Regions from separate parts of the Homo sapiens genome. Here region 2 is linked to region 1. The links come from fine-mapping of genetic effects on gene expression. A gene starts in region 1. The other region holds a variant in brackets. All regions are shown on one strand. Distances are between the middles of the regions. Region 1 holds the start of IL33 (interleukin 33). Region 2 has its middle 28 kb from the start of IL33.

Region 1 (16,129 bases):
AGCATTCCTATACACCAATAACAGACAAACAGAGAGCCAAGTAATGAGTGAACTCCCAGTCACAATTGCTACAAAGAGAATAAAATACCTAGGAATACAGTTTACAAGGGATGTGAAGAACCTCTTCAAGGAGAACTACAAAACACTGCTCAAGGAAATAAGAGAGGACACAAACGAATGGGAAAACATTCTATGCTCATGGATAGGAAGAATCAACATCGTGAAAATGGCCATACTGCCCAAAGTAATTTATAGATTCAATGCTGTCCCCATAAAGCTACCATTGACTTTCCTCACAGAATTGGAAAAAACTACTTTACTCTTCATATGGGACCAAAAAAGAGCCTGCATAACCACAACAATCCTAAGTAAAAAGAACAAAGCTTTAGGCAACACGCTACCTGGCTTCAAACTATACTACAAGGCTACAGTAACCAAAACAGCATGGTACTGGTACCAAAACAGATATATAGACCAATGGAACAGAATAGAGGCCTCAGAAATAACACCACACATCTACAACCATCTGGTCTTTGACAAACCTGACAAAAACAAGAAATGGGGAAAGGATCCCCTATTTAATAAATGGTGTTGGGAAAACTGGCTAGTCATATGCAGAAAACTGAAACTGGACCCCTTCCTTATACCTTATACAAAAATTAACTCAAGATGGATTAAAGACTTAAATGTAAGACCTAAAACCATAAAAATCCTAGAAGAAAACCTAGGCAATACCATTGAGGACATACGCATGGGCAAAGACTTCATGTCCAAAACACCAAAAGTAATAGCAACAAAAGCCAAAATTGACAAATGGGATCTAATTAAACTAAAGAGCTTCTGCACAGCAAAAGAAACTATCATCAGAGTAAACAGGCAACCTACAGAATGGGAGAACACTTTTGCAATCTATCCATCTGACAAAGGGCTAATATCCAGAATCTACAAAGAACTTAAATTTACAAGAAAAAAATGCACAACCCCATCAAAAAGCGGGCAAAGGATATGAACAGATACTTCTCAAAAGAAGATATCTATGCAGCCCACAGACATATGAAAAAATGCTCATCATCACTGGTCATTAGAGAAATGCAAATCAAAACCACAATGAGATACCATCTCATGCCCGTTAGAATGGTGGTCATTAAAATGTCAGGAAACAACAGATGCTGGAGAGGATGTGGAGAAATAGGAACACTTTTACACTGTTGGTGGGAGTGTAAATTAGTTCAACCATGGTGGAAGACAGTGTGGTGATTCCTCAAGGATCTGGAACTAAAAATACTATTTGACCCAGCAATCCCATTATTGGGTATATACCCAAAGGATTATAAATCATTCTGCTATAAAGGCACATGCACACATATGTTTACTGCAGCACTATTCACAATAGCAAAGATTTGGAACCAACCCAAATGTCCATCAATGATAGACTGGATAAAGAAAATGTGGCACATATACACCGTGGAATACTATGCAGCCATAAAAAAGGATGAGTTCATATCCTTTGCAGGGACATGGATGAAGCTAGGAACCATCATTCTCAGCAAACTAACACAAGAACAGAAAATCACAGAAAATCAAACACCCCATGTTCTCACTCATAAGTGGGAGTTGAGCAATGAGAACACATGGACACAGGGAGGGGAACATCACATACCGGGGCCTGTCAGAGGGTGAGGGACTAGGGGAGGGATAGCATTAGGAGAAATACCTAAAGTAGATGATGAGTTGATGGGTGCAGCAAACCACCATGGCACATGTATACCTATGAAACAAAACTGCACGTTCTGCACATGTACCCCAGAACTTAAAGTATATAAAAAATTTAATAAAATAAAATGTTGGGCTAAAAACAAACAAACAAACAAAAAACAAACCAAAAAAAGAAAATGGGCACTCTTGTCTAGTTTCTCATCTTAGGAGGAAAGCTTTCAGTCTTTCATCATTGAGAATAATGCCACTGTGAATTTTTCATAAATGTCCTTTATCAATTGAGAAAGTTCCCTTCTTTTTCTAGTTCATTGAGGGTTTTTATCATTAAAGGGTGACAGATTTTGTCAAAAGCTTTTTCTGCATCTATTGAGATAATTATATGGGTGGGGTTTTTTCCTTCATTCTATGGGTGTGATTTATTACATTGATTGGTTGTTATATGTTGAACCACTCTTGCATTTTTGGTATAAACCTCACTTAGTTATGACATAGAACCTTCTTAGAATGTTGCTGGATTTATGCAGCAGTTCTTATAGGGCAGGTCTACTAGTGATGAACTCCCTATGTTGCCCTGTTTTTCTTTATCTGATAACATCTTAATTTCTTAATGTCTTACTTACTCTCTCATTTTTAAAGAATAGTTTTTCCAGATATAGAATTTTTGGTTGACAATGTTTTTCTCTCAGCCTTTTAAATATGTTGTCCCACTGTCTTCTGGCCTCCATGGCTTCTGAAGAGAAACTAGCTGGTAATCCTACACATGAGTATCCCTTATACATAGTGAGAAACATCTCAGTTGCTGCTTTCCAGATTTGCTTTTTGTCTTTGGCTTTTAACCGTTTGGTTATAGTGTATCTCAGTGTGAATCTTTTGAGTTATCCTGCTTGGAGTTCATTGAGTATTTCGAATGTTTAAAATCTTGGTTACTAATCAAATTTGGGACATTTTTACCATCATTTTGCCAAATATTCTCTCTGTTCCATTCTCTCTCCTTTCCCTATAGGACTCTCATTGTCCACCTGTTGGCATGCTTGATGATGTCCTACAGGCCTTTTAGACTCTGCTCATTTTTTTCCCATTCTTTTTGCTTTCTTTTCCTCGGACTGGACCATTTCAATTAACCTATCACTGGTTCTTGCTTCTGACTGCTCAAATCTGCTACTGAATCCCTCTAGTGAATTTTTTATTTCAGTTATTCTACTTTTCAACCTCAGAATTTCTATTTGGTTCCTTTTTATAATTTATATCTATTATTTCTATTATTGATATTCTCTATTTGCAAAGACATAATTTTCATGGTTTCCTTTAGCTCTTTAAATATATTTAAGACAGCTGATTTAAAGGCTTTGCCTAATAAGTCATATATCTGGTCTTTCTCAAGAATGATTACTGTCACTTTTTAAAGTCCATACTTCATTGTTTGAGTGTCTCATAATTTTGTGTTGAAAGGTGGACATTTTGCACATTATAATACAGTAACTCAGGAAATTCAGTTCTCCACATCCCCATGGTTTGTTGTTGTTGCTTGTAGTGGGTTGTTGTTATCTGTCTGTTTAGTGACTTTTCTAAAACATTTTTCTACAGTCTGTATTCTTTGTTATGTGTGGTCACTGAAGTCGGTGTTCCATTAGCTTAGTGGTCAGCTAGTGTTATGACAATGATTTCCTTAAACAACTAGAGCCAAAAATAGAAGCTGAAGAAAGAAAAAGAAAAATTATTCCCCTAGTGTTTTCAGATTGGCTCTGTGTTGGGACATGCCTTCAACGCATAGCAAAGCCATTTACAACTCTGCTTTGGTCTTCACTTCCTGCTTGCATGGAACTTGAAAGTCAGCCAGAGGTGAAAGCCTGGGGTCTTCTCAGGACTTTTCTGAACATGTCTACCTTCCTAGCAATGAGTGTTGTCTTCTTGATTCCCCAGTATATGTGGGAACTTTTCAAAGTCCTTATTCCCCTCATGTATCTCCTTTTCTAACCTCTTTCTTCCCTGGCTTTTTTGATATGTCTATTGCTTGTTCTGACTGTTATCCCTTGCCCCAGGCTGCTGCAGCCAATACTTTTACCTTTTAATGCCTTTGGCAAATGCCACCTGAGAAGCCATGCCAGCCCTGGAAACACTTTGAATCAGATGAAACAAAGGCAACTCGTCACACTAGTCCTTAAGGGAGCCCCCAGACAGGCTGAAACACACAATCACAATTATTTGAGAAAAAGGTCCATTTAGTCCCTCTGGCACTAGCAGCATGCACCTGGAATATGGGCGACCATCCTGATAACTGCCATTGATCTGGGGGATGGCAGATGAGGGATAGCAAGTAGGCAATTTAAAATGCCACAGCACTCTCTTCTGCAATGCATCAACTTCTTCTTTCTTCATTAACTTTTCCATGGCTGTCATAAGCTTTCGACTATATGCAGAGTTCTGTGAAAGTTGATTTTGACAGTTTTCGCCAGCTTATTAGTTGTTTTTGCGGAGAGATAGACCTTGAAGTTCCTTATTCTGCCATTTTTGGTGACATCAATTGAAATAATTCTACAACTGACTTGATAGATAAGAATATGTTTAATTTTGCAAATGTTCCATGTGTGCTTGAAGGGAGTATGTATTCTCTGCCTGTTGTATTGTGTTATTTATATATCCATGTGTCCCAGCTCATTGTGTCAACCAAAATTTCTATATTCTTCCTAATGCTTTTCCTGCTTGACAACGTTGCTAAGACATAACAAATTTCCCATTAGGATAATAGATATTTGTATCTCTCTCTGTAATTACTTTTATTTTCATTTTATGTAGTTAAGACTGTGTTAACAGGTGTTTGTGGGTGGGGATTTATTTCTTCCCAATGAATTTAATTTTATCATTATTCAGTAGCCTCTGTTTTGTTTTGTTTTGTTTTGTTTTGTTTTGTTTTTGAGATAGTGTTTCACTCTTGGTCTATGCCTAGGCTAGAGTGCAGTGGTATGTTTAAAGCTCATTGTAGCCTTAAACTCCTGGTCTCAAGCACTCCTCCTGCCTCAGCCTCCCAAGTAGCTGGGACTACAGGCATGTGCCACCATGCCTAGCTAATTTTTAATTTTCTTTTGTAGAGACAAAGACTATATTGTCCAGGCTGGTCTCAAATTCCTGGGCTCAAGCAATCCGCCCACCCCAGCACCCAAAACACTGGGATTACAGGAAGGAACCATCATGCCCGATATATTGGTCAGGGTTCTCTAGAGAGACAGAACTAATAGAATAGATATATAAAGGAGTTTAGTAGGTATTAACTTACAGAATCACAAGTTCCCACAATAGGCTGTCTGCAAGCTTGAGGAGCAGGAGAGCCAGTCTGGGTCTCAAAACTGAAGAACTTGGAGTCTGATGTTCGAGGGCAGGAAGCATCCAGGACAGGAGAAAGATGTAGGCTGGGAGGTTAGGCTAGTCTCTCTTTTTACATTTTTCTGCCAGCTTTATATTCGCTGGAAGCTTATTAGATTGTGCCTACCATAACTAAGGGTGGATCTGCCTTCCCCAGTCCACTGACTCAAATGTTCATCCCTTTTGGTAACACCCACACAGACACACCCAGGATTAATACTTTGCATCCTTCAATCCAATCAAGTTGACACTCAGTATTAACCATCACACCTGACCAGTAACTTCTTTGTATCTTTAGTATATGTCTCTTTAAAACAGCATTACATGGATCTTTTCTTTTCAAGTCTAAGTATCTTAGCTTCTTCGACTGGCACCTTTAGTCCATGTAATGAGATTATTGACATATTTGTGTTAAATCTATCATGCTTTGTTTTTTCTCTTGGTATTACCTTTACTATGCTTTTTTGTCTCTTCTTTCTTGATTTCTGCTGGATAGACTGCTATTTTTTTCTCATTCTGTTTTTCTCCTCTAATCATTTGGAAGTTAGTTATATGTCCAATTTCTATTATTCTGAATTTTTTCTAGAAATTTAAAAATGAATACAGAGCTCAAAATTCAGCAATATTTTTACCCTCTTCCTGAGCAATACAATATACTTGAGAACTCTCATTCCTATCATCATCTCTCCAGACATATAGGCTATTTTTGTAATGTATTTAGTTCTAGTTTGTTTTTCTTAACCTTACAAGATATTATTGTCAGTATTTACCGTTAATATGTCTTAGCATTACCTCAATATCTATCATACTTTTGATTCTTCAATTCTGCTTATATTCAGGCCTACCATTTGGGTTCACCTTCCTCCATGTGAAGTATACCCTTTAAATTTTCATTTTTTAAGGTCTGTTGGTAGCAAAACATCAATTTGAACTTTCTTCCTTTGGGAATAAAATTGTGCAACCAGATCAAGTATATGTCTATGAGTCAGCAAAATTTTAGACAGTCACCCATATACCTTGCATCTACCCTGAAAGGAGGAAGTTAATAAGGCAGATTTGGGATTTGGGAAGTAGTGGGGTTAGGGATGAAGAACTATAAAAGTCACAAAACCTGGGGTAACCATATCTCAGTGTTTTCCTATTATTCTGGTCAAATGATTAATAACATTCTTTTCATTCTCAAAAATTTATGATTCAGATAACAAATTATACGATTACTAGAATAAAGTCTGTATGACCTAACCCTTAGTCGTCCTGCCTTCTAGAGCCATGCTTTCATCTTCATTCAACTAGCTACTTGAATAGCATGGAGTAACTTGTGGCAGTCCAATATTACCATTGAGTACAACCAGAAAGGCAGATCAGGAGAGAGCTGCTGAAGCACGAAGGATGAGGGGCTAAGATTCCATGGAGAGATTAGCTAACAGTAGTTAGCTACTTTTTAATAGTTACGAGAGCATTGGCCAAGGCAGGGAATCTGTATTTTACCAAGGTAGGAGGTCACTGCCAGGAGACAGAGAAATCACTGTTGATCGGTGTTGTGGGAATGAAGAGACAAAATTGGAAATTGGAAGGGCCAGGCCCCCAGCAAGAAGAGAGGGCTGGAGAACTGAACCTACATATAATGAGTTTCCTCTTCAAAACACTTGCCGAATTACGCAGCTGCATGGGGGCAAAGGCAAAAAAAAAAAAAAAAAAAAAAAAAATCAGCCTCTTAAAAGCAGAGCTGTGGTTTTAGCAGCCTTTTTGGTTTTGTTCTTGTTTCATAAAAAGTCAAGAGTTATAGTTCATGACTGCTGGGAGAAAATTGAATAATTTTTAGAAATTGTTTCATCCAGGCCAGACACAGTGGCTCACGCCTGTAATCCCAGCACTTTGGGAGGCCAAGGGGGGCAGATCACGAGGTCAGGAGATCGAGACCATCCTGGCTAACACAGTGAAACCCCGTCTCTACTACAAAATACAAAAAATTAGCCGGGCATGGTGGCGGGCGCCTGTAGTCCCAGCTACTCAGGAGGCTGAGGCAGGAGAATAGTGTGAACCTGGGAGGCGGAGCTTGAAGTGAGCTGAGATCACGCCACTGCACTCCAGCCTGGGCGACGGAGCGAGACTCCATCTCAAAATAAATAAATAAATAAATAAATAATTGTTTTATCCAAAAAAGAGCATAAGCCAGGGGGACAAAATAGCAGAGAAAAAAAGTAAGATAGTAGAAGCAAATTCAAATATATCAATAATTACAATAGATGTTCCAGTTCAAAGACAAATTATTGTCAAACTGGGAAAAAAAACCAGTATACTACTTATATGTGACACATCTTTAATGTAAGGACACAGAAAGTTTGAAAGAAAAAAGATGAAAAGAGATACACTATGTGAATACTAACCAAAAGAATGTTTGCAAAGCTCTGCTAATGGAGAAAGCAGACAAATGGACAAAGCAGACTTTAAGGCATGAAGCATAATTAGAGATAAAAAGAGAAATTTTTGAAATAATGAAGGAGGGTTCAATATACATAATAAAGATACATTATTCATCCTTTGTAATTTCCTCAGTATTTGCAAGAATTCCCAGAGTAGAGTATGCTAATATTCCCTTGGCTGTTACTTGTCACCCCTCCCTCCTATTTATTGCACACAGCTCAATTCCTGATTCATTCTTGTCATGTTGGCATCCTGTCCGCTTGCTTCACTGCTTTATCCAAAGGGCAGACATAGCCATCTTTCTTCATTACTCACAAATGCAACACTATGGCTTGTAGCAGATGATTGCTCAGGTTTGGGGATGATTAAAGGGGATTACTGCACAGAAAATGAAACAACTTTAAACAAGATAACAGAGTTCCTTAGTTGTTTTTTCCAAAGGGGACTCCATCATAGTCACATTTTCCCAAGCCTGGTCAGCCATCTGTTGCTGTCTCATTTTCTCTTTCCCCTGGATTCCAGAACCCTAACATTCTATCCTTCAACATGCCATGAGAAAAACTAAAAAATTCCTATTTCATTTTACAGTAAACTTTTTTCTGCTGCCCCTTTGTTTCAAGGTCACCCTTCTAATCTTGTAGATTGAATGGATGTAGAGGCTTGCTAGGGTAACAGTCCATCACAATATCCTTCTAAGTACAGCAGCAGTCTTCCTTCCAATGTGTGATCTTAGGATGTGGAATCAGTCCAAGTCTTAAAAGAGCATTACTTCATCCCTTTATTTTCTGCTACAGATGCCAAACGAGATGGAGAGAGGGTGAGTAGGAGCAAAATTTCTCATGAGGTAAGAAGAACAACTTCTCATGGGATCTATAGTACAGGATTTGCTTTTGTGATAAAGTATTATCTTCTGCGAGATTTTTGAGATGAATAGAAAGAAAAGATGAACAGTGGGGAGCAGGAAAGCCCGTCAGATATGTTGGAATACAGAGTATTTCAGAGCTTTTATTTGCAGACGAGCTGCTTATTACTGATAGGCCAAAGGGGGTCGCAAATTTCTATTATAAAGGAATTTGGAAGAATACACTGATCTCTTAATGAAGTTTGTAAATTAAGAAGCCAACGGCCAAAAGTGAATATATAAATGGCAACAGAATTTCAAAATGGACAGTGCTGAAGTTGAAGTTTAGGAGTTCAACTCCAAAGAGAGCCAAAACATAAAGTTTAGGGGCAGAAGAAGAATCATAATTGCTGGTTTAAAATATTCAGATGGAGGGAGGACGCAGAAAGTAGTGAGCCTTAGATGTTGACAGAATTGTAACTCTGTTGGCTCTTTACATGAGATTTCAAGCCTGCTAAAATCTCACCCGCCCAGATCTCCCTTCTAAGGCAATTTGGGTCTCTGCCAAACTTTGGCTAATAAAAAGAGTCTACAGACTCCTCCGAACACAGAGCTGCAGCTCTTCAGGGAAGAAATCAAAACAAGATCACAAGGTAAGACTGAATATTCTGGGAGATTTTTAGTCAGATTTTGCAAAGTTAAACCTTGGGAACCATGGAGAACTGTGTTTTTTTTTTTTTCCTGAAAAATAAATGATAAGGCCAATTTGTTATTATTGCTAATAGCAGTAAAAGTCAATGACAATAGCTGTTACTAACTTATAATTCCATTTGCTTTCCTTTGGGTGATTTGTAAAATTAATAAATTGCTGAAAGAGATTGTAATAGTTTTTATAGTAAATTCTGCCCCCTCCATGAAACTTTATTTTATTTTATTTTATGTTTTTTAAGAGATGGGATCTTGCTCTGTAGCGCAGGCTGGAGCACAGTGGCGTGATCCTAGCTCACTGCAGCCTCCAATTCCTGGGCTCAAGCAATCATCCCATCTCAGCTTCCCAAGCAGCTGGAACTACAGGCACACGCCACTATGCCTGGGTAATTTTTTTAGTTTATGTAGAGATAGGGTCTTTGCTTTGTTGCCAGGCTGGAAACTTTATAAAGCAAGTTGATAATTCTACTTCTAACTCCTAATGCTTACTCAAGACAAACATGCTTGCAATTGTTTACAAGTGGTTTTCAGTAAAAGGGGGACATCACTAAGTGTGGTGGTTCAAGCCTGTAATCCCAACACTTTGGGAGGCCGAGGTGGGTGAATCGCCTGAGGTCAGGAGTTTGCAGCCAGCCTGGCCAAGAGGATGAAACCCTGTCTCTACTAAAAATACAAAAACAAACAAACAAAACTAGCTGGGTGTGGTGGTGGGCACCTGTAATCCCAGCTACTCGGGAGGCTAAGGCAGGAGAATCGCTTGAACCCAGGAGGTGGAGGTTGCAGTGAGGCAAGATCATGCCATTACACTCCAGCCTGGGTAACAAGAGCTAAATGTCATCTCCAAAAAAAATGATGGAAACTTTGAATAAAAAATAGCTTCACAAAGAGGATTAGAGATGCACTAAATGAAGTAGTTTGGAATTGTTCTTTAGTTCTTTTTTCTTAATGGGACCTGACCCTGGACTTTAATCTCTGATCTGCACAGACAAAACCAATTCACTGAAACCATGGCATGGCAGTGAAGAGTTTAATTGACACAGGGCCAGCCAGCCATGCCACAGAGGATTCAAAGTTATTATTCAAATCTCCCCAAAAATTTGGAGGCTAGGGTTTTTCAAGGTTAGTTTGATGGGCAAAGGGCTTAGGGGAATAGGTGCTGCTGATTGGTTGGGAATAAAATCACAGGCATGTGAAAAATGGTCCTCGTGTATGCACTGAGTCTATTTCTGGGTGGGAGCCACAGAGTAGTCACTGGTCATCAGAAATGCAAAAGCCTGAACAGACATCTCTGAAGGTCAATCTTAGCTTATACAATAGTGATGTTATTTACAGTAGTCACTGGGGAAGTTGCAAATCTTGTGACCTCCAGAATCATGGCTAGTAATCATTTTACTATGCCTACATCTTAGCAGAATTCAGGACCCTCTCAAACTCCTAACTTGGTGGTCTTTCATTATTTTTACCAAGGTGGTTTACTTTTGGTGAAGGGTTATTATCATTTAAACCATACCCTAAATTTCTCCCAAAGTTAGCTTGGCCCAAGCCCAGGAATGACCAAAGGCAATATGGAAGTTAAAAGCATGATGGGGGTTGGTTATGTCAGATCTCCTTCACTGTCATAATTTTCTCACTGTTATTTCTCACTGTCAGTTTCAAATACAAGAATTGAGAGGTACCACCCCCTCAAAAATAAACTTTTGTGGAAAAACAAGGAATTGATACCCTAAGTGGAGAAATTCAAAAGCTCATCAGTTTTGCTACTATTCTTCATTTACAGACTTTCCTTTGAAGATTGTTTTCTTTTCTTTATTCCTTGCTTTCTGCCTCCTCACAATTTTCTCTGCCTTTTCTTTCCACACATGAATATATGCCTCCAGACTATTTTAATTAAGAAAATAGCACAAATCCAAAAGTATGTCCTGTGGCTGCATACAAGTCAGAGACTTGAGAGTGAAGTGTCTAGGGCAAAGACCCGTATTTCCTCCTCTGCACTGTGCTTCTCCCGCTGAAGCATCCTTCTGTGCCACACTGGGGTCCTATACTGTTTCCAACAGTCTTACTTATTGCTTCTCAAATTTGTCTTTTGAATACTTAATGCTCCTCTTTTGATTTCCACCCAGAAAATGTACCTCTCTGAGTTCAGAAAACTTCAGAATCCTCTATTTCCCAAAGTTTAGGGTGATTGAACTGAATCACACAGCTCGGTATTGTCTGAAACAGTTAAGAACTTCTAGCACAAGCATCGCACTTTCCTCAGCTCATATTTCACATTTTCTCCATTCTTCTCTGAAAGGATCCTGGACCTTCTACCAATCTTTGATTGGTTACTTCATAATTGATTTCTTAAGTAACCTAGATGTTTATCTCTTTCACATCATTGTTTAGCTTACAGTATCTACAGCCAGAAAGCACCTCTTTCCCTTTCCCATTTATAGAGAGAAAAGAATCCTGAGGCAAACTTTCACTTAGGGATTGAAATAGCCAGAACTGAAAACAATGGAAGAGATTGAGAAACAGGAAATGTCACTCTTGGCCAGGGTTTCCCAGTGATTAAGGAAATAGAGCTTACAACTAACTTCGGGGAAATAGGCATGAAATTCAATTGTGAAAAGTTAAGCTCCATCAGGGAATTAAATCATTACAGGGAAATACTGAAGAAGGGTCAGCATTGAGATAATATATATATGCATATATATATATACACATATATATTCTCCCTATATATATATTTTTTCTCCCTATACATATGTCCCCATATATATATCCCCATATATATATGTTCTCCATATATATATATGTTCTCCATATATATATATGTTCTCCATATATATATATGTTCTCCATATATATATATGTTCTCCATATATATATATGTTCTCCATATATATATATGTTCTCCATATATATATATGTTCTCCATATATATATGTTCTCCATATATATATATGTTCTCCATATATATATATGTTCTCCATATATATATATGTTCTCCATATATATATATATATATATATATATATATATATATATATATATGTCTACATCAGAAAATTTATATGTCAGTAAATCTGATACCATAAGGGTTTTTCTGGAGATGTCAGTCAGACTGTGCCAAAATCAATGTATCTTTCATTCAAGTTGAAATTTTGGCAAACATGGTGGAAATCAAGAGGTTCATTGGAATTCACCTTCTTTGTATCTCAGTTTGTAGCAGGAACATTTAGAAACATTAAGACCAAATATAAACTCCTGAAACAGCAGAAAGAAAGGGACCTTAATTCTATCAACAACAAAATGATTGGGTTGGGTTCAAGAACTTCAGGAAATCATGGTAGAACGTCTAATCTCTTCGGTTTCCTGTAGATTCTCTGGTGCTGATGTCTGCAAGCAAAAGTAACTTTTAAGGGGACACAACCTTAGTGGGCCTCAAAAAGTTCAGGCAAAGTTCAGTATGCAGGGAGTGGTAAGGGGGAGTGAGGAATTGGGGGCGCTTCCTCCCTATAGCGGACTCCTGGCACATGCTGCTCATGTTATTATCGGTAGATTACAGTATACCTACGAAGGTATTTATTTTTGTTTTGTATTTTTTAAGTGAAGAGTGCAGTATAGCATAATAGTAAAGACACAAATTTTTAGAGGCAGTCAGGCCTCCAGTCCATCATCCATCATTGACCAGCTGTGTAATTTTGGATCTTACTTAACTTTCCTGAGCCTGAATTTTTTTCTCTTGTGTAAAATGTGAAACAAACAAGCAACAAAATCCCACTCAAGACAGGTGTTGTGATGGGTAAAACAAGTTAGAAGCAGTCATCAAAGGTAATTTATTAATCACTGACCATTTACTAAAAGTGAGACATTTATCTTCCACATTATCCCTCACAGCACCTCTGTGAGGTAAATATTATCTCCATTTATGAAATTGAGACAGTGGGATTTGAAAAGATTTTAATACTAACCCAAAATCATAAAGTCAGTAAATTTCAGATCAGAGATTAAAGTCCAGGGTCAGGTCCCATTAAGAAAAAAGAACTAAAGAACAATTCCAAACTACTTCATTTAGTGCATCTCTAATCCTCTTTGTGAAGCTATTTTCTTATTCAAAGTTTCCATCATTTTCAAATATGAAAATATTGATGAAGTGACATTAAAACCTTCTGTCTATTTCCTTCAGGGCTACATTCACCTTTTGCCCTAGGGAAAGAGTTCCTGCCAGCCATTGTTCTCTTCTGTAACTTTTTTTTGCCATTCCCATTGCTATTTCCAGAACTAAGAAGTTCACCCACAAACTTGGCTGAGCGCTTTACTTTTAATCAGCACCCAGTTTACATCTAATTCCCCTCCACTTTGAACATTCCATAAATTAAATGATTGTCATAATTTTCCCTAGCCATATTAGTGCATCTGAGACCTTTTGCAATGGTAAGAATGTTTTGCTCATTATTTCCGACATAGTTCCTAGCAAAGATTCAATATTTCCTTAGAGTTTAACAGAACTTCATAGTTTTGTGTGTCTGCTGTGCTCAAATCTCAGCCACTCTAACTTCTTAGCCTGCTGGCTTATTACTGGCAATTGTTTAAGAAATGCTATTTAAGCTGTTTGTAATTTCTTTTTAGGGGACTATATGCTTTTCTCCACTTGTTCTTTTCTTTGGAGAATTATTAGACCCAAACATGAACTTCCTCAAATCTGAATTTATTAGTTCCAAAGTTTTTCCTCCCTAAATTTTATTTTTCCATTATCTCTTATACATATATATTATTTGTCCACATTCTTTAGCAATCCTGTTTAACAATACTTGATCAGTAGTCAGCATAACTGCTTCATATTTGTAAATTATTGTTATTGTTATTATTATTATTATTTATTTTTGAGACAGAGTCTGTCACCCAAGCTGGAGAGCAGTAGCTCGATCACAACTCACTGCAGCCTTGACATCCGGGGCTCAGGCTATCCTCCCACCTCAGCCTCCTAAGTAGCTGAGACCACAGCCATGTGCTGCCTCACCTGGCTAATTTTTTTACATTTTGTAGAAATGAGGTCTCACTATGTTGCCCAGGATGATCTCAAACTCCTGGGCTTAAGTAATCCTCCTGCCTCAGCCTCTCAAAGTGCTGGGATTACAGGTGTGAGCCACTGTACCTGACCCATAATTGTTAAGTTTCCTTTAGTAATATTTCATTCTAAACTTTTGAACAAGTTTCAGGCACAGAAATAAGTACCAATATTCATTCTGATGTAATTTGGTGACTATCTCCAGCTTCCTGTTTTTTCCCCCATAAGAAAAAAGGTCCATATTACCTGCACGTATGGTGGCATTATTTTTTCTTCACTGACTTATTCAAGAGCCATATGGTTTGTGGAAACTTAATCACAATTGTCAGTATGTGGTGGTCATTTAATATAAAAAATTAGATGCTATTAACTCAAAGGAGTATAAGCTGTTTTACAAAAAATGTTTGGAGGATACCGTGCCTAGGACCTGACAGGTAATGCTTACATCTGGCTGTCCAATTATTACTACTTTCCATTATGTCAAGTGGAAGAATTTCTGCTCAGTGCTATAAGGCCCATGAAAGCAGATTCAACATTTAGAAGCATTAAGGTCATTTGCACTGTGATGTGACAGAAAAAAATATTTTTAAGTCTTTATATTTCTTAATTCATAAAAGTATAAAACTTAGAAGTCTATTATTTTGTCAGCATCCAATTTTTTTCTAGGCATTTATGGCAAAAGCTGGTAAAAGAGCATCTGGGTTTAGACCCGTTGGTTCTCCTTACTATCTAGGTGGAACCATGCAGCAACTAGTAACCTCTAGAATGGCAGTTCGCTGTACATATTTTATGAAAAGTGTCTTGGCAAAGGAAAGGCTACCAATTATATTTATTTCTCTGTGCATCAGTGGGTACACTCAAGAAGAAGTCATATCTGTCCAGAGTGGGAAAATAATTTAGCCTTATCTTTGGGGAGAAGAGAGGTGTTTAACAGAGTCTTTTCATTTTAGTAGCTTTCACACTAAGCCCAGCTACCAGGTAAGTAAGGCTGAGCCAACTAAGAATTCCACAGAGAAATAATGAAGTCAGCAATTTGGGGAATAGCTGGAGTAGCCCACAAAGGAGGCAAAGTGAAAAGCTTGTCATACCATGGTGGTCAAGCTTCCAGACCTTTGAGTTGCATTTTTAGATCACCGCACAAGGCAGTTCTGTTAAAACTTTATGGAAATGAAATATCCAGGGTGCAGATTGTGGCTTATTTTATTCAGATAAATGACCAGGAAGTTTCATATCTATGAGAAGAAAGCCTCTGTACTCTTCAGTTTTAAATGGCTTGTAATAATCAAATTTAATTTCATCTAACAATGTTGTGTGTTAGCAGGCAGCCATTTGGTTGTACAATAAAATCTCATGCTTTCTACCCAGGTGATATTCAAAATATTTAATAGCTGGCATGGCATTAGCAAAGAGAAATAAGAAAGGAACCAGCCTTGCAGCATACCAGCTAAATACCAGCATTGAGAGGGACTCTCATTTTGGCTTTTGACTATGCCAGCTAAGTTGAATGGTGTGGCAGTGAAAGTGTTGTGGAATATATTACATGCTTTACAAAACTTTTCATAACCTGTTCTATAATATCAGTTATTTCTGTCGCTATTCAATAAGCATATCTCAAACATGAGAAAAAAAGCCTGCAAAAGTTATGCTTTCTGTAACTTTAGTCTTGGCACAAGGAAAAACTTTCACATATTTTTTGTTTTAGTCAAATTGTCACAATTTAGCACATGGAATCCCCTTTATACTAGCCAACTTGTTCTTTTAAAATATAACCACAGAATTTTAAATAATGCATTCCTGCTTTCAGGCAGCAATTTCTTTTTAATTTTGAAAGTGTTGATGTTGTATTAACTGATTTTTTTTTTACTTGGTAGCTACATTTGTTCCTGGAGAATAGGGAACAGTTGACTTTATGAGTAGAATGTTAACTGAAGATTGATTTTCTTTCTTTCAAGCTTTTTAATTCAGAAATATATCATACACATAAACTAATATGTGGAACGCATATGTAAGTGTAAGTTCTGGAGAAAAAT
Region 2 (16,129 bases), 27 kb before region 1:
TCTATTCAGAGATTCAACTTCTTCCTGGTTTAGTCTTGGGAGAGTGTACGTGTCGAGGAATTTATCCATTTCTTCTAGATTTTCTAGTTTATTTGCGTAGAGGTGTTTGTAGTATTCTCTGATGGTAGTTTGTATTTCTGTGGGATCGGTGGTGATATCCCCTTTATCATTTTTTATTGCATCTATTTGATTCTTCTCTCTTTTTTTCTTTATTAGTCTTGGTAGCGGTCTATCAATTTTGTTGATCCTTTCAAAAAACCAGCTCCTGGATTCATGGATTTTTTGAAGGGTTTTTTGTGTCTCTATCTCCTTCAGTTCTGCTCTGATTTTAGTTATTTCTTGCCTTCTGCTAGCTTTTGAATGTGTTTGCTCTTGCTTTTCTAGTTCTTTTAATTGTGATGTTAGGGTGTCAATTTTGGATCTTTCCTGCTTTCTCTTGTGGGCATTTAGTGCTATAAATTTCCCTCTACACACTGCTTTGAATGTGTCCCAGAGATTCTGGTATGTTGTGTCTTTGTTCTCGTTGGTTTCAAAGAACATCTTTATTTCTGCCTTCATTTCGTTATGTACCCAGTAGTCATTCAGGAGCAGGTTGCTCAGTTCCCATGTAGTTGAGCGGTTTTGAGTGAGATTCTTAATCCTGAGTTCTAGTTTGATTGCACTGTGGTCTGAGAGATAGTTTGTTATAATTTTTGTTCTTTTAAATTTGCTGAGGAGTGCTTTACTTCCAAGTATGTGGTCAATTTTGGAATAGGTGTGGTGTGGTGCTGAAAAAAATGTATATTCTGTTGATTTGGGGTGGAGAGTTCTGTAGATGTCTATTAGGTCTGCTTGGTGCAGAGCTGAGTTCAATTCCTGTGTATCCTTGTTGACTTTCTGTCTCGTTGATCTGTCTAATATTGACAGTGGGGTGTTAAAGTCTCCCATTATTAATGTGTGGGAGTCTAAGTCTCTTTGTAGGTCACTCAGGACTTGGTTTATGAATCTGGGTGCTCCTGTATTGGGTGCATATATATTTAGGATAGTTAGCTCTTCTTGTTGAATTGATCCCTTTACCATTATGTAATGGCCTTCTTTGTCTCTTTTGATCTTTGTTGGTTTAAAGTCTGTTTTATCAGAGACTAGGATTGCAACCTCTGCCTTTTTTTGTTTTCCATTTGCTTGGTAGATTTTCCTCCATCCCTTTATTTTGAGCCTATATGTGTCTCTGCATATGAGATGGGTTTCCTGAATACAGCACACTGATGGGTCTTGACTCTTTATCCAATTTGCCAGTCTGTGTCTTTTAATTGGAGCATTTAGTCGATTTACATTTAAAGTTAATATTGTTATGTGTGAATTTGGTCCTGTCATTATGATGTTAGCTGGTTATTTTGCTCGTTAGTTGATGCAGTTTCTTCCTAGTCTTGATGGTCTTTACAATTTGGCATGATTTTGCAGCGGCTGGTACTGGTTGTTCCTTTCTATGTTTAGCACTTCCTTCAGGAGCTCTTTTAGGGCAGGCCTGGTGGTGACAAAATTTCTCAGCATTTGCTTGTCTGTAAAGTATTTTATTTCTCCTTCACTTATAAAGCTTAGTTTGGCTGGATATGAAATTCTGGGTTGAAAATTCTTTTCTTTAAGAACGTTGAATATTGGCCCCCACTCTCTTCTGGCTTGTAGAGTTTCTGCCGAGAGATCCGCTGTTAGTCTGATGGGCTTCCCTTTGAGGGTAACCCGACCTTTCTCTCTGGCTGCCCTTAACATTTTTTCCTTCATTTCAACTTTGGTGAATCTGACAATTATGTGTCTTGGAGTTGCTCTTCTCGAGGAGTATCTTTGTGGCGTTCTCTGTATTTCCTGAATCTGAATGTTGGCCTGCTTTGCTAGATTGGGCAAGTTCTCCTGGACAATATCCTGCAGAGTGTTTTCCAACTTGGTTCCATTCTCCCCGTCACTTTCAGGTACAACAATCAGACGTAGATTTGGTCTTTTCACATAGTCCCATATTTCTTGGAGGCTTTGCTCGTTTCTTTTGATTCTTTTTTCTCTAAACTTCCCTTCTCACTTCATTTCATTCATTTCATCTTCCATCACTGATACCCTTTCTTCCAGTTGATCGCATCGGCTCCTGAGGCTTCTGCATTCTTCACGTAGTTCTCGAGCTTTGGTTTTCAGCTCCATCAGCTCCTTTAAGCACTTCTCTGTATTGATTATTCTAGTTATACATTCTTCTAAATTTTTTTCAAAGTTTTCAACTTCTTTGCCTTTGGTTTGAATGTCGTCCCATAGCTCAGAGTAATTTGATCATCTGAAGCCTTCTTCTCTCAGCTCGTCAAAGTCATTCTCCATCCAGGTTTGTTCCGTTGCTGGTGAGGAACTGTGTTCCTTTGGAGGAGGAGAGGCGCTCTGCTTTTTACAGTTTCCAGTTTTTCTGCTCTGTTTTTTCCCCATCTTTGTGGTTTTATCTACTTTTGGTCTTTAATGATGGTGATGTGCAGATGGGTTTTTGGTGTGGATGTCCTTTCTGTTTGTTAGTTTTCCTTCTAACAGACAGGACCCTCAGCTGCAGGTCTGTTGGAATACCCTGCCGTGTGAGGTGTCAGTCTGCCCCTGCTACGGGGTGCCTCCCAGTTAGGCTGCTCGGGGGTCAGGGGTCAGGGACCCACTTGAGGAGGCAGTCTGCCGGTTCTCAGATCTCCAGCTGCGTGCTGGGAGAACCACTGCTCTCTTCAAAGCTGTCAGACAGGGACACTTAAGTCTGCAGAGGTTACTGCTGTCTTTTTGTTTGTCTGTGCCCTGCCCCCAGAGGTGGAGCCTACAGAGGCAGGCAGGCCTCCTTGAGCTGTGGTGGGCTCCACCCAGTTCGAGCTTCCTGGCTGCTTTGTTTACCTAAGCAAGCCTGGGCAATGGCGGGCGCCCCTCCCCCAGCCTCGTTGCCGCCTTGCAGTTTGATCTCAGACTGCTGTGCTAGCAATCAGCGAGACTCCGTGGGCGTAGGACCCTCCGAGCCAGGTGTGGGACACAATCTCCTGGTGCGCTGTTTTTTAAGCCCGTCAGTATTCGGGTGCGAGTGACCTGATCTTCCAGGTGCCGTCTGTCACCCCTTTCTCTGACTAGGAAAGGGAACTCCCTGATCCTCTGCGCTTCCGAGTGAGGCAATGCCTCGCCCTGCTTCCGCTGGCGCACGGTGCGCGCACCCACTGACCTGCGCCCACTGTCTGGCACTCCCTAGTGAGATGAACCCGCTACCTCAGATGGAAATGCAGAAATCACCCGTCTTCTGCGTTGCTCACGCTGGGAGCTGGAGACCGGAGCTGTTCCTATTCGGCCATCTTGGCTCCTCTCAGGTGAATTTTGATCTACCATTAAAACAAGGTGCCAGGACCGGATGTTTCGTAACAGTGCTCTCTCTAACTCTTAAATAACAGATAGTTCTAATCCTATTTAAGCTCCTTCATTTATTTTATGAAGTCAGCATAATCCTAATTCCAAAGCCAGATGGAGAATATAAAAATGTAAAACTCTTACAAATGAATCTAGATACAAAAATTCTAAATAAATTATTAGTAAACAAAATCTAGCCTCTAATAAAATGAATATTACCAAGTTGTGTATATTTTAGGAATGCAAATGTATGATCTAAAATCAATCACTTATCACTCATTACAACAGCAAATTAAGGAAGATAAACTACATAATCATATCAACACTTGCTGAAAAGGTGTTGATAAAATTCATCCATCTCCCCTAATAAAACCTCAACATAACATAGAAATAGAAGGAAATCGATGAAAAAAAATGAATGGCAAGTACATGAAATATAATAAGCTCTCATTCATTTAATATATACTTAAGTAGTTCCTAGTACCAGGCACACTCTGGTGATACAACAGTGAACATGATAGATACAATCTGTGCTCTGCAAGGCTTACAGTACAGTGGGAGTGACTGGAAATTTATTGGAGGCTTTGATGTGGAAGAAGGATATGGAAATCCATGAGAAAACACTATGCTTAGTCAGGGCCATGTGACAATAGAATTTCTGCAGACAGTGACAATTAAATTGAGATCTGAAAAGTGAGAAAGATGTATACAGATTAAAGAGAGGTTGGTTGGAGAAAATATTTCTGGGATAGAGAATAACCCTTACAAAGGCCTGGATAGGAGAGAACGAAAGTAAGTTGAGTATGGCGAAAGTACAGAGCAAGAGCTCAGGATGAAGTGTGTAATACAAACTGCGAAGAAAGGCTCAGCCCAGATCAGGAAGGCTTTGGAAGCCAAATTTAGGAGCTTGGACTTTACCCTACATGCAATGTGAAGACATGGCTGGGTGTTAAGTAGAAGAGTTGCACTGGTTCTTTTGTTTCCCATACCTCCAGATCCATTCTCTGCCCTGGAAATCAGATCCCCATAGGGTCTGTCACCCACTCTCCCTTGCCTACTGGCTTCCAGATGGGTTCAGCCAATGCGGTGCCTTTTCCCTGGGTCCCCTTGCTTCAGTGCTACACCCGATAGTAAATGTATCCCTCCTTGAACACAGGTCCTGCCAGGCAGCCCTTTTGTGGCTCCAGCTTTCACTGAGTAACTATTTCTTGTCTCTTCAGACCTACAGATAAATATGGCTTCCCCTGTTTCTAGTCTCTTTCATTCTGCCCACACCTCTGTAAGTAGCCCTTTCATCAAAGCTTTTCATTTGAACCATCTGAATTAAAGTCTATTTCCTTTTGGGACCCTGACTGATACAGGCATGATTAGGTCAGATTTGTGTTTTATAACAATCCCTCTGGCTGCTTTATGGAAAACAGATTGGAAGATGGCAAAGACCGGCTCCAAGGAGACCATTAAGGAGGCTGCTGTAATTCTGGAGGTAAGAGAGGATGGTGGCCTGGGCTCAGGTAGCAGAACTGGGGTTCAGGAGTGAGGAGTTTAACTCCTGGCCAAAACCGTATGTGTGATATTTCAGGCCCAGCCACAGGCAATTGCAAAGGCTTTGCCTGGAAGGCCTCATAGGAAAAGCTGCCCTTCCCACACCAGACTTGGTACAGAGCCAATGCATTGCAGTGTCTGAGGAGAGTTGCAGTCAAAGATTCAGGCCTCCTGGCCAGCTATGCTCTTATACATATCTGCATTCATGGCCCAGGCACCTCCATTTGGAAGTCTTCTTCTTTTCAGGGAAGCTTGAAGACACTTTACCCACTCTGACTCAGTACTCGATATTTTCTACTTGCAGCCCTCCCATTCTTCCTCACTTCTGGCTCCAGGGTCCATAAAACTGCAGGTGCCTTTTGGTTGGAGATCCCTAAACAGTGAGTTGACTCCACCAACACACTGTTCCACTGGGGGAAATGAAACAAAGGGGAGTCAAGGTTTGACTGTTACTTTCATTTTGGCTATTTTTAATCAGCTACTCTAACGCCTGAAAGCTTAGCTGAGTGGCTGATGGAAAGAAGCATGTAGATTCCAGAGATATTTGGACGATAGAGTTGACAGGATTTGGCCATTTATTAGATTGGGGGATGGGGTAGGATAGAGAACAGTGAGGGAAAATAAAAAGCCAAGGAAACTGCATAGGTGATTTGGGCAATAGAGTGGATGGTGGTGCCATTCACTGGACCATGAAACAAGGAACAGGAGCTGAGTGGCAGGAAAATACTTTCATCTGGGGCATGACACTTCAGAGAAGCCTGTGGGTCATCCAAGGCAGATATTCAGAAAACAGCTGGATATGTAAAAAGGAATTTAGCGGAGAGGTCTGAATTGTTATGTAGATTTGAGAATCATTCATTAATAAATGGTAAGTATAGATATTGGCATGAATAAAATGAAGCTGGGAGAATACATAGAATGAGAAGAAAAGATGGCCTGAAACTGAGGCTCACCATGGTCTCTTTTTAGACTTGTCCTCTTTTGGTTCTCTAGATAATTCTCCAATGATATGTTTTTCTATGACCCTCTCAAAACCTTTCTTAAACTTACTAAATAAAATAGAGACAGCAGGTTATAATGACAGAGCTTGGAACATTATAGATACTCAGTAAATGTGCACAACCTTCCTTTCTAACTCTGTATTTCTCAGGATTGTGTTAAGAATCCTGAGTTAATTAAGGTTCCTGGCTAAAGACAAAGCTATGTCTAAATGAAGGCAGCTGTTATCATACTTGCAGGTGCTATATTTCTTTAAATAATGAGTTTTATATATTTACTGTAAAGGATTCTTTTAGTTCACATATTATTTCTCCTAAACAGCAAAGGATACCACCTTTAAACCAAACCAAACCAAGTCATGCCTCTGAGTGAAGTTGTAGAATAATTTTTTTGAAACTTTAACATTTTAATTTTCTATTAGCAAGCTAAAACAAAGCAGAGGCTAAATTCCATAGTCTCCAGAAATATGGGGATCGCTATATGTAAGTGTATTAGTCCATTTTCATACTGCCCAAGACTGGGTGATTTATAAAGAAAAGAGGTTTAGGAGCCAGGCACGGTGGCTTACACCTGTAATCCCAGCTACTTGGGAGGCTGAAGCAGGGAAATTGCTTGAACCTGGGAGGTGGAGGTTGCAGTGAGCCGAGATGGCGCCACTGTACTCCAGCCTGGGTGGCAGGGCGAGACTCCATCCCCAAAAAAACAAAACAAAACAAAACAAAAACAAAAAGGGAAGGAAGGAAGGGAGGGAGGGAGAAGGTGAAGGGGAAGGGGAAGGGGAAGGGGGAGGAATAAGAAAAAGAAAAAGAGGTTTAATGGAATCACAGTTCAACATGGCTGGGGTGGCCTCACAACCACGGTGGAAGGCGAAGGAGGAGCAAAGGCATATCTTGCATGGCAGCAGGCAAGAGAGCGTGTGCAGGGGAACTGCCCTTTATAAAATCATCAGATCTTGTGAGACTTATTCACTATCATAAAAACAGCATGGGAAAAACCTGCCCCCACGATTCAATTACCTCCCACTGGGTCCCTCTAATGACAAGTGGGGATTATGAGAACTACAACTCAAGATGAAATTTGGGTGGAGACACAGCCAATTCATATCAGTAAGTTCATCCTGAAAGGCTGAGAGTAAAGCTATCATAAAGATGGGGATTTCCTGCTTTTCTCATTCTGTTTATATTTTTACATCCTGTTTTGTCTAAAGTGTTCTTTTGAAACAAAGACCTGGAAAGAAGTCCAAGTAGACTCTGACCTCTCTTGCATCTCCTGTACCCATATTGGAGGTAATACATATCCCATACTTCTATGAAAAGAATGCAGGT[C/A]TTGGAATCAGGCTGACTTGGGCTCAAATATGAACTTCATCACTAACTAGATATGTGAGCCTTAATTCTTCTGTCTTTGTAATGAGAACTTCTTTGGGGTTCTGATCTGGATTAAACAAAACATTGTGTATAAAGCCCCAGGCACATAGTAGGTGCTCAACATAGTAAGTGCTCAATAAGTGGTAGCCACAGTGATATTTATTATGAAGTGGGCCAGACTTTGGGAGGAAGAAAGAAGGTAAAGAAAGATATAGACCAAATGGGAAGATAATGTCATGGCTTTAATTCACTTTTCATGGAAATTAGAAGAGATTGTGAGTAACAGAAGGTCACTTGGGGAGCTGTCCAGGGTGCAGAGGATGCCAAGAAATATTTATCTGATTGAAGAAGAGAGTTGAAAGTTCATTAAAACTTCTGTTTACATTTGAGCAAAACCTGCTCTTAATAATTACTCTCAAAAGTTGCAAGCTAAAGTAACTAGATAATTCAATAAATATATAGATACCAGGTCTGAGGCTCAGAAGGACTGTCCAGGGTGGGTCACCAAGCTCCAGGCCACCAGACTAGCGACAAGAGTTAGGCTGCAATTCCCAGGAAGGAAGAATGGAAGCCATTATCCCAGAGGAATATAGAATAGGCTATATTCTATAGGGTGGAGGGAGGAAAGTAGAGAACAGTACCTGGTAACAGGGACTGCAGGGGTAGCTGGTTTTGTTTGTGTGTTTTCTGCTCAGGAACAATTTCCATATCTTTGGGTGACAGATCCCTATTTTACTTTGCCAAAATTACCTCTCCTAGTGAAGGTGCAGGCCTTCCCAAGGTTACCAATTCATTTTCTTCCTTTGAATGTTGAATCTTCAGTAGATATTTAAAAATGAAAAATGGTTAGTATGAATTCCTCTGAGCTTTGCAGCACTCATCCCGGGGACACTGACTCACAACACAGTTTATATGAAAAGAGGGGATGCTCATCATCCCCTGAAGTTCAAGACGAGGCTGAGAAACATAGTGGGACTCTGTCTCTACAAAAAAAAAATTCTAAAAATTAGTCATGCTTGGTGGCACACACCTGTAGTGCCAGCTACTCGGGAGGCTGAAGCCAGAGGATAACTTGAGGCCAGGAGGTCGGGGCTGCAGTGAGCCATGATTGCACCACTGCACTCCAGCCTGGGTGACAGAGTGAGACTTTGTCACAAAACATAACAAAACAAATAACTAAATAACAAAACAAATAACAACTCCCTGGGAAAGCTGACTTTTAGCTTAATTCCTGCCCTTCAATATTCTCTATATTGTAAGGTGCTAAAAATTTACAAACTAGATTCCCAAGTTTCCTAACTAGGTAGTTTCCAGTTAGATTTTCCCAAAGGCAGGTCTCAGAGAAAGACCAGAAGGCAAAAGGGAGAAGCTATTTTATCCTCCATTTTCTGTTTCTGGATCTGGCAGTAGCCACAGGCAGCCACAGGATCCAGACGTCTTGGCAGTGAGTCCAGTAACATCAAGGGGACTATGGGCTCCCAAGTTCTTGCAGCTTCTGTAAATGTGCAAATTCTCAGCCTCTTGAAAGGTAACAGCAGCAGTGGTTTCAATAGCAGCAGCAGCAGCATTAACAAAAGGATGCTGGCAACCTCAGCAACATAGCTCTTTTGAATTCTGGGTACCATCACTGGCCCTTTTTGCCCCTCCTTGGATTTTATTCTCTCTGTTTGAATGCCTAGAGAAATTCTGCCTTTCTAATTGAACACCAATTAATAACTGAGAGTGATTTACTATTACACTTTTGGTGGGAATGTTAACACATGAGTACAATCAGTAAGATGCAGTACAATTGAACAGACTTGTGTTTAAACCAGGCTCCCCCACCTATTAGCAGTGTTATCTTAGGCAAATAACTTAACCAAACCTCAGTTTTCCTTATCTGTAAAATAGGGATGATAGAATCCCTCATAGGAATGTTACATAAATTATGACGTAACGTTTTATATGTAATGATATAATGTATGTAAAAAGTACCTGGCACAAAGGCGTTCAACAAATTTTGGTTTCCTACATCTCTTTCACCCAGCACTTGCTTGGTTATGGCTTAGGTGCATGAACACAGACACATTCCAGAGATGTTTGACTCAGTCAAGCTTCTATCAGGAACTAGGGTACAATAGAAATGGATTACATGAGGAAGTCAGATATGGAGGAAAAATGAAGTAGTTGCTGACAGGGAGTGTTAAATGGGATTTCTAGAAAGGACACTTCTCAGAAGAGAAACATGATGCACAACAAATTTTAAACCCTTACTTAGTGACAGCCTAATTCAAATCACAAACATAGGTCTATACTCAGAAAAATTATGTTCGTACACACTCTTTGGAAGAGAGAAACCCTGGCTGCTGGTCTTATTGTGGATACCTTCATAATTCACTTGGAAGATGGAACAGATTATTATTATTATTATTATTTGAGACAGGGTCTTACTCTGTCACCCAGGCTGGAGTGCAGTGGCACAACCTAGGCTCACTGCAACCTCCACCTCCCAGACTCAAGTGATCCTCCCATCTCAGCCTTCCAAGTAGCTGGGACTACAGGCACGTCACCACACCCAGCTAATTTTTTGTTTTTTGTTTTTTGTATTTTTGATACAGACAGCATTTCACCATGTTGCCCAGGCTTGTCTTAAAACTCCTGAGCTCAAGCAGTCTGCCTGCCTTGCCCTCTCATAGTGCTGGGATTACAGGCATTGAGCCACCGGACCCTGGCCAGAAGATACAAAATTATTTTGTATCTGTCCGTGGAGACATTTCACACTTATTATAATTTAGTATAAGTCATGGTGAATGTAAAGAGACAAATATGGCTTTTCACAAGGTGCCCCTTTGACCCTTCAGAGCACTAGATCTCTAAAATGAAGTATTTGGAGTCCAAAAGATATAAATAAGAATAAGAGGTCATGATGGTGTCTTCATGAGAAAAGATTGGGAATTAAAGATGTTTATGCTGAAATAGAATTATAAGATACTAGTAGTGGATGATGCTTTAAAGACTCTCACCTCTCATATTTTAGATCAGAGAACCTAAGCTCAGAGGAGGAAACTGTTCTTAAATTACACAAAAATTTGGAGGCAGAAATGTCACCAGGTTTCTTATATCTGGGAAAGAGACCAAAAAAAAGGTATTATCCTTCTGGAACAGTCTTGGCCAGAGCCTTTCTCCTCTAAGAGTGGGACTGGACAATGGAGCCAGGTCAGTGGTGGGTCTGTGCCATTGACTAGTGGAGAGCTCCCACATAAAAATATGCCACCCTTTGAGTGCAGCCACGGATGTTACAATCTAGTATTGAGTAAATGGACACTTGATTTTACATATCTCCTTCAATATATTTCATCATAATATTAACTGTCATAACTACAAATTATCAAAAATTCCCTACTTTTGAAAAATGTACATAAAATGAAGAATGATGGCTCTCCTCTGTCCTAGCAAGGGACAAAGATTGGCCTAGAAAGCAGGTCTCTTGATATCCAGTCCGATGTCCTTTCCAGTTTCCCCAAAATAATAGTAGCATTCAAAGGTATTAAAATATAGTGCCTTACATGGGTCCAAAAGGCAGATTTTGTTCTTGCTTGAAAAGAGAGCTGTAATAAATAGTCTAAATTTCTAGCAGGCATAGTAGAAGAACCTAAGGTAAATGTTTTAATTTTATGCTAATGGTTACTAAGGATTATCATAGAATTACCATTTTTGGGGAACTTGAAAAATAGGTGTGACAATTTGAGGGATGAAAAGATAACCAAAAAATAAATTTAGCTCCTGCTGTTGCCACTGAATGTGATGACAAATGATACAGAGAGGTCATTCTCACAAGACCTAGGCTAGGCCAAGGAGAATGAAGAGGAGACATCACACCAGCATTTAACTTAAGAAATCAGCTGTGTGGGTGGCTGTTGTGGTTGCTTTTAACGACTAGTTAAAAAAAAAACAGATTTATTGAAATAATTAATAATTCACATACACACAATTCACCCACTTAAAAGTGAACAGATCGATGGTGTTTATACTATATTCACAGTTGTGTAACTTCAGCCAGAATATTGGAATATTTTCATGACCTCAGATGAAACCCCATACCCATTAGCAGTTCCTCCCTTTCTCTCCCTTCTTCCCACCCCAGACCCTGGCAACCACTAATCTACTTTCTATCTCTTTGGATTTGCCTATTCTGGACCTTGCATATAAATGGACTCACACAAAAAACTCACTGATACGTAGTCTTTCGTACCTTGCTTCTTTCACTTAACATAATGTATTACAGGCTCCTTCATGTTGCAGTATGTACCAGTACTTCATTGCTTTATACTGTCGAATAATATTCCATTGTGTAGAGCGTATACTGAGGAGTGAATAACTGGGTCATATAAGAACTCTACGTTTAATCTTTTGAGGAACTTCCAGATTATTTTCCAAAGTGGCTGCACCATTTCACATCCCTACCAGCAAGATCTGAAGGTTCCAACTCTCCACATCTTTTTCAATACTTGTTATTATGTCTCTTTTATATTTTAACCATCCTATCATGTATGAAGTGATATCTCACTGTGGTTTTGATTTGCATTTCCTGATAGATAATGATATTGACTCTTTTCATTTATTGTTGGCTATTTGCATATTTTCTTTGAGAAATTGCCTTTTTTTGAAAGATAGTTTTGCTGGACATAAACTTGTTGATTGACAACTTTTTGTCTTTCAGTACCTTCAAAATGTTACCTTCTTGCCTTCTGGCATCCATTGGTTCTGATGAGAATTCAGCTGTAAGCATCATTGGCATTCCACTATACATGATCAGTCCTTTTTCTCTTACGCTTTCAATATTTTTGCTTTGGCTTTGGCTTTGAACATTTTTACAGTAATGTGTTGTGTGTGGATTTCTTTGCATCTATCTCACTTAGAATTCATTGAGTTTCTTAGATATGTAGAGTAATAATTTGTATGAAATCTGGGGACTCTTCGACCATGAATTCTTTGAATACTTTCTGCTCTATTTTCTGTCTCCTCTCCTTATAGTACACCAATTACACTTATGTCTGCACGGTTAATGGTGCTCTGACACTTTTTTCCCATTATTTTTCTCTCTGTTCTTGAGATAGCTTAATCTCTCTCAGTCTCTCTTCAAGTTTACCCATGTTTTTCTTCCTCCAAAACCAACAACTGAAGGTACCAAATAGAGAATAAAAACAGATAGATACTGAGGGAAGTCAATGCTGGGCAGAAAAGAACAGACATCAACTCCCATTTTGCGTATGTGTGTTTTCACCATGTGGGGTGGCTAAAACTCTTATAGAAAATCCTAGTTTTACTGGCTTAAGAATCAGAGAAAAGGACTTGTGTTTGGGGAACTAGATCCACTGGAAAGTGAAGAAGAAACTCCCAGAAAGGAGAGAGCCAAACAATGGGTCTCATATTCTAGGTACAAAATTTTCCCAAATCTCTGAGTGATCCTTGAACATGACTATTGGGGAAAGACTCAAAGCAAATTAGTTAAAGTTAAAGGAATTGAAGTAAAATTTCAGCTACACTCATCACAGTGGAAATACAGTGTTACAGTTTCATTCTATAAAAGTTAAATATATGCTTAAAATCAGTACTATTCAGAGGAACATTCAGATTCCGGAATTTTTACAACACATCATTCACAATATTGAGGATGCAATCCAAAATTATGCAACATTCAGGCCGGATGCAGTGCCTCACACCTGTAATCCCAGCACTTTAGAGGGCTAAGGCAGGCAGATCACCTGAGGTCAGGACTTCAAGACCAACCTGCCCAACACAGTGAAACCTCATCTCTACAAAAATACAAAAATTAGCTGGGCATGATGGTGGGTTCCTGTAATCCCAGCTATTCAGGAGGCTGAGGCGGGAGAATCATTTGAACCTGGGAGGCGGAGGTTGCAGTGAGCTGAGATTGCATTATTGCACTCCAGCCTGGGCAACACAGCGAGACTCCATCTCAAAAAAAAAATTATACAACATTCAAAGAAGCAGGAAAACATGACCAATTCATAGGAGAAAGATTAATAGAAAACAAGCTAGGATGACCCAGATGTTGGCCAACAATTATTTAAAACTGTATATTAAAATGATGCTCAGTAGTAAAAAGGAAAATATGCTCACAGCTAATAAAAAGTGGGAAATTTCAGCAGAAGAAAAGAGATTATTTTTTTAAAGCCCAAATAGAAATTCTAGAACTGAAAAACAAAACAGCTGAAATATAAAATTAACTGGGTAAGCTTAAGAACCAAATGGAATGATGGAGGAAAGAAACAATGGACTTACAAGTCAATAGAAATTATCTGATTTGAAGAAGGCAGAGAAATAAATTTTAATTAACAGAGCCTATGGATCTGTGAGACAATTCAAAACTGAAGACCTGAAAGAAGACGAGAGAGAGAATTGAGAGGAAAATCATGGCCCAAATTCCCTAAACGTGGCATAAAACATATAGTTACAAATTTATGAAGCTTAGACAGAATTAGTAGAAAAAACACTCCTATTTACATCATAATCAAACTATGGAAGAAAAATATTTGAAGACAAAGAAAAATGACACATTGAATACAGGGAAACAATTAAAATGATGGCTGCTTTCTCATAAGAAGCAATAGAAGGGGAGTCACAAGACAGTGAAACAGAGTTCATGTCCTTTGTAGGGACATGGATGAAATTGGAAATCATCATTCTCAGTAAACTATCGCAAGAACAAAAAAACCAAACACCGCATATTCTCACTCATAGGTGGGAATTGAACAATGAGAACACATGGACACAGGAAGGGGAACATCACACTCTGGGGACTGTTGTGGGGTGGTGGGGGGGAGGGATAGCATTGGGAGATATACCTAATGCTAGATGACGAGTTAGTGGGTGCAGCGCACCAGCATGGCACATGTATACATATGTAACTAACCTGCACATTGTGCACATGTACCCTAAAACTTAAAGTATAAATAATGAAAAAAAAGAAAAGAAAAAATGTACACCAATAAATTAAATAACCTAGAAAAAATATTAAAAAGCATAATCAAACTAAAAAAATAAATAAATAAATAAAGTACAAGGGAAAAGCTTGTCCACTTGGAATTCTGCATTCAGCAAAAATGTCTTTCATTATTGAAGGTGAAATAAGAGTATCAGGGAAAGAAAAATAAGAGAATTTATAACCACCATATCGGTGGTGAAACCAAACAAACAAACAAACAACAAAACTGAAATAAATTCTTCTAGTCTAAAAGGAAATAAACCTTCCTATGTGCCAGGGCCCACCTTAGGCACGGAAATACAAGTTTGAGTATAATGAGGTTCACCATGGAGTTTATAGCTTATAGATGAAATGGAAACCAAACATTGTACTTCATGGCAGTACCAATGGGAGCAGGAATGCCTGGCCTCAATAACAATAGGAGCCAGAAACCACACATGTATTTACTAAAATGTCTTTCAAGAGGGCACACCTGTAAGTCTCTGCATTTTGCCACTTATACAACTTCATCTTTGAGCGCTTACATAGGGTCAGATTACCTAACAATAGCTGTAAGCCAAGACAAAATTGGAGGAGGAGAGAATTAGTAGATACCTGATACAGGATATAAGGGCTAAGCTTTAGATTTTTCTATCCTGACTCGATCCAGGGTATTTGGTTTCTATTGTTTTTCACTAAATAAAGATAGGTCTTTCAACAATCCCAGCTTCTGTGGAATTAGCTGAAAATAAACCAAGAGCTAGAGACTCAAAGTATTTACAGTAGATACATTTGAGTAGGTATATTGCTCAAGTCACACTGTAACTGCCCAGTGGGTTCATTTTGCCTGCTGCCCAGATAAACTCAATTTATTAAGACAGAGGAATTGTAATAGACAAAGAGTTTAATTCATGCACAGCCAGCTAAACAGAAGACAGAAAATTCAGAGATTGGAGTTTTTTAAGGGCAATTTGGCCGGTAGGGGGCCAGAGAATGAGGAGTGCTGAGAAGTTGGGTTGGAGATGAAATCACAGGGGGTCAAAGTGGGTTCTTCTTGCTGTCTTTGGTTTTTGGACAGGATTGCAGAACTGGTTTAGCCAGATTACTGGCCTGGATGGTGCTAGCTGGTGCATCAGAATTTTAGGGTCTGAAAAACATTTCAAGCACTAATCTTGGGTTTTACAATAGCGATGTTATCCCTAGGAGCGACTGGGGAGGTTTGGAATCATGTGGCCCCTGGCTGAGTGACTCCTAAACCAAAATTTCTAATCTTGTTGCCAATTTGTTCGTCTTACAAAGGCAATCTGGTCCCCAGGCAAGAAGGACATTCATTTCTGGAAAGGGCTGTTATCATCTTTGTTTCAAAGTTAAACTACAAACTGAAGTCCTCCCAAAAGTTAGTTTGGCCTTTGCCCAGGAATGAACAAGGGCAGTTTGGAGGTTGGAAATAAGATGGAGTCAGTTAGGTGAGATCTCTTTCACATCATAATTTTCTCACTGTTACAATTTTTGCAAAGGCAGTTTCAATACCACAGTTAGATCAACAAATATTTTGAAAATGGGAAAAAGGGCCTTTTCAAATTAATTTTTTAAAGAGATAACCCCAGAAGGTCTTGTATGGGGTGGAAAAGCAATAGGAAAATTATATAATATGATGATTCTGTGAAACTAGTGGGTCAGAAATAAGTGTTTACAGGCCAGGGCCTGGTGGCACCAGAATGAGCTCTTGGAAGTAGCTGGCTTTGTGTGTTGGGTCCATATGCTGGTGCACCCATGTGGCTGCATACCTGATCTGGGTGGGTGCCGAGGCATTGTCACCCCTGAGCATTGCCTAGGCATTTCTCGTGGCCCGCTAGAGACCAGTCCCACTCCCTTGTCCCCTCCTTCCCCT

The links. PIP is the estimated chance that this variant, and not a neighbour inherited with it, causes the effect. A credible set is the group of variants that fine-mapping cannot tell apart.
Region 2: its variant is the best candidate, but not a certain one, in a credible set for the expression of IL33 in nasal epithelium (TOPMed, PIP 0.80).

Annotation. Positions count from the first base shown.
Region 1 is chr9:6,206,862-6,222,990 of GRCh38, forward strand. IL33 (interleukin 33) reads left to right here and starts at 8,946. Exons shown (of 8, transcript NM_033439.4): 1 at 8,946-8,991.
Region 2 is chr9:6,179,900-6,196,028 of GRCh38, forward strand. It overlaps the pseudogene GTF3AP1. Among named protein-coding and RNA genes, the nearest start is that of IL33, 28 kb to the right of the region's middle. RefSeq lists enhancers at 2,483-3,067, 3,068-3,652, 5,127-5,226. The variant C/A (reference allele first, on the strand shown) is at 7,233.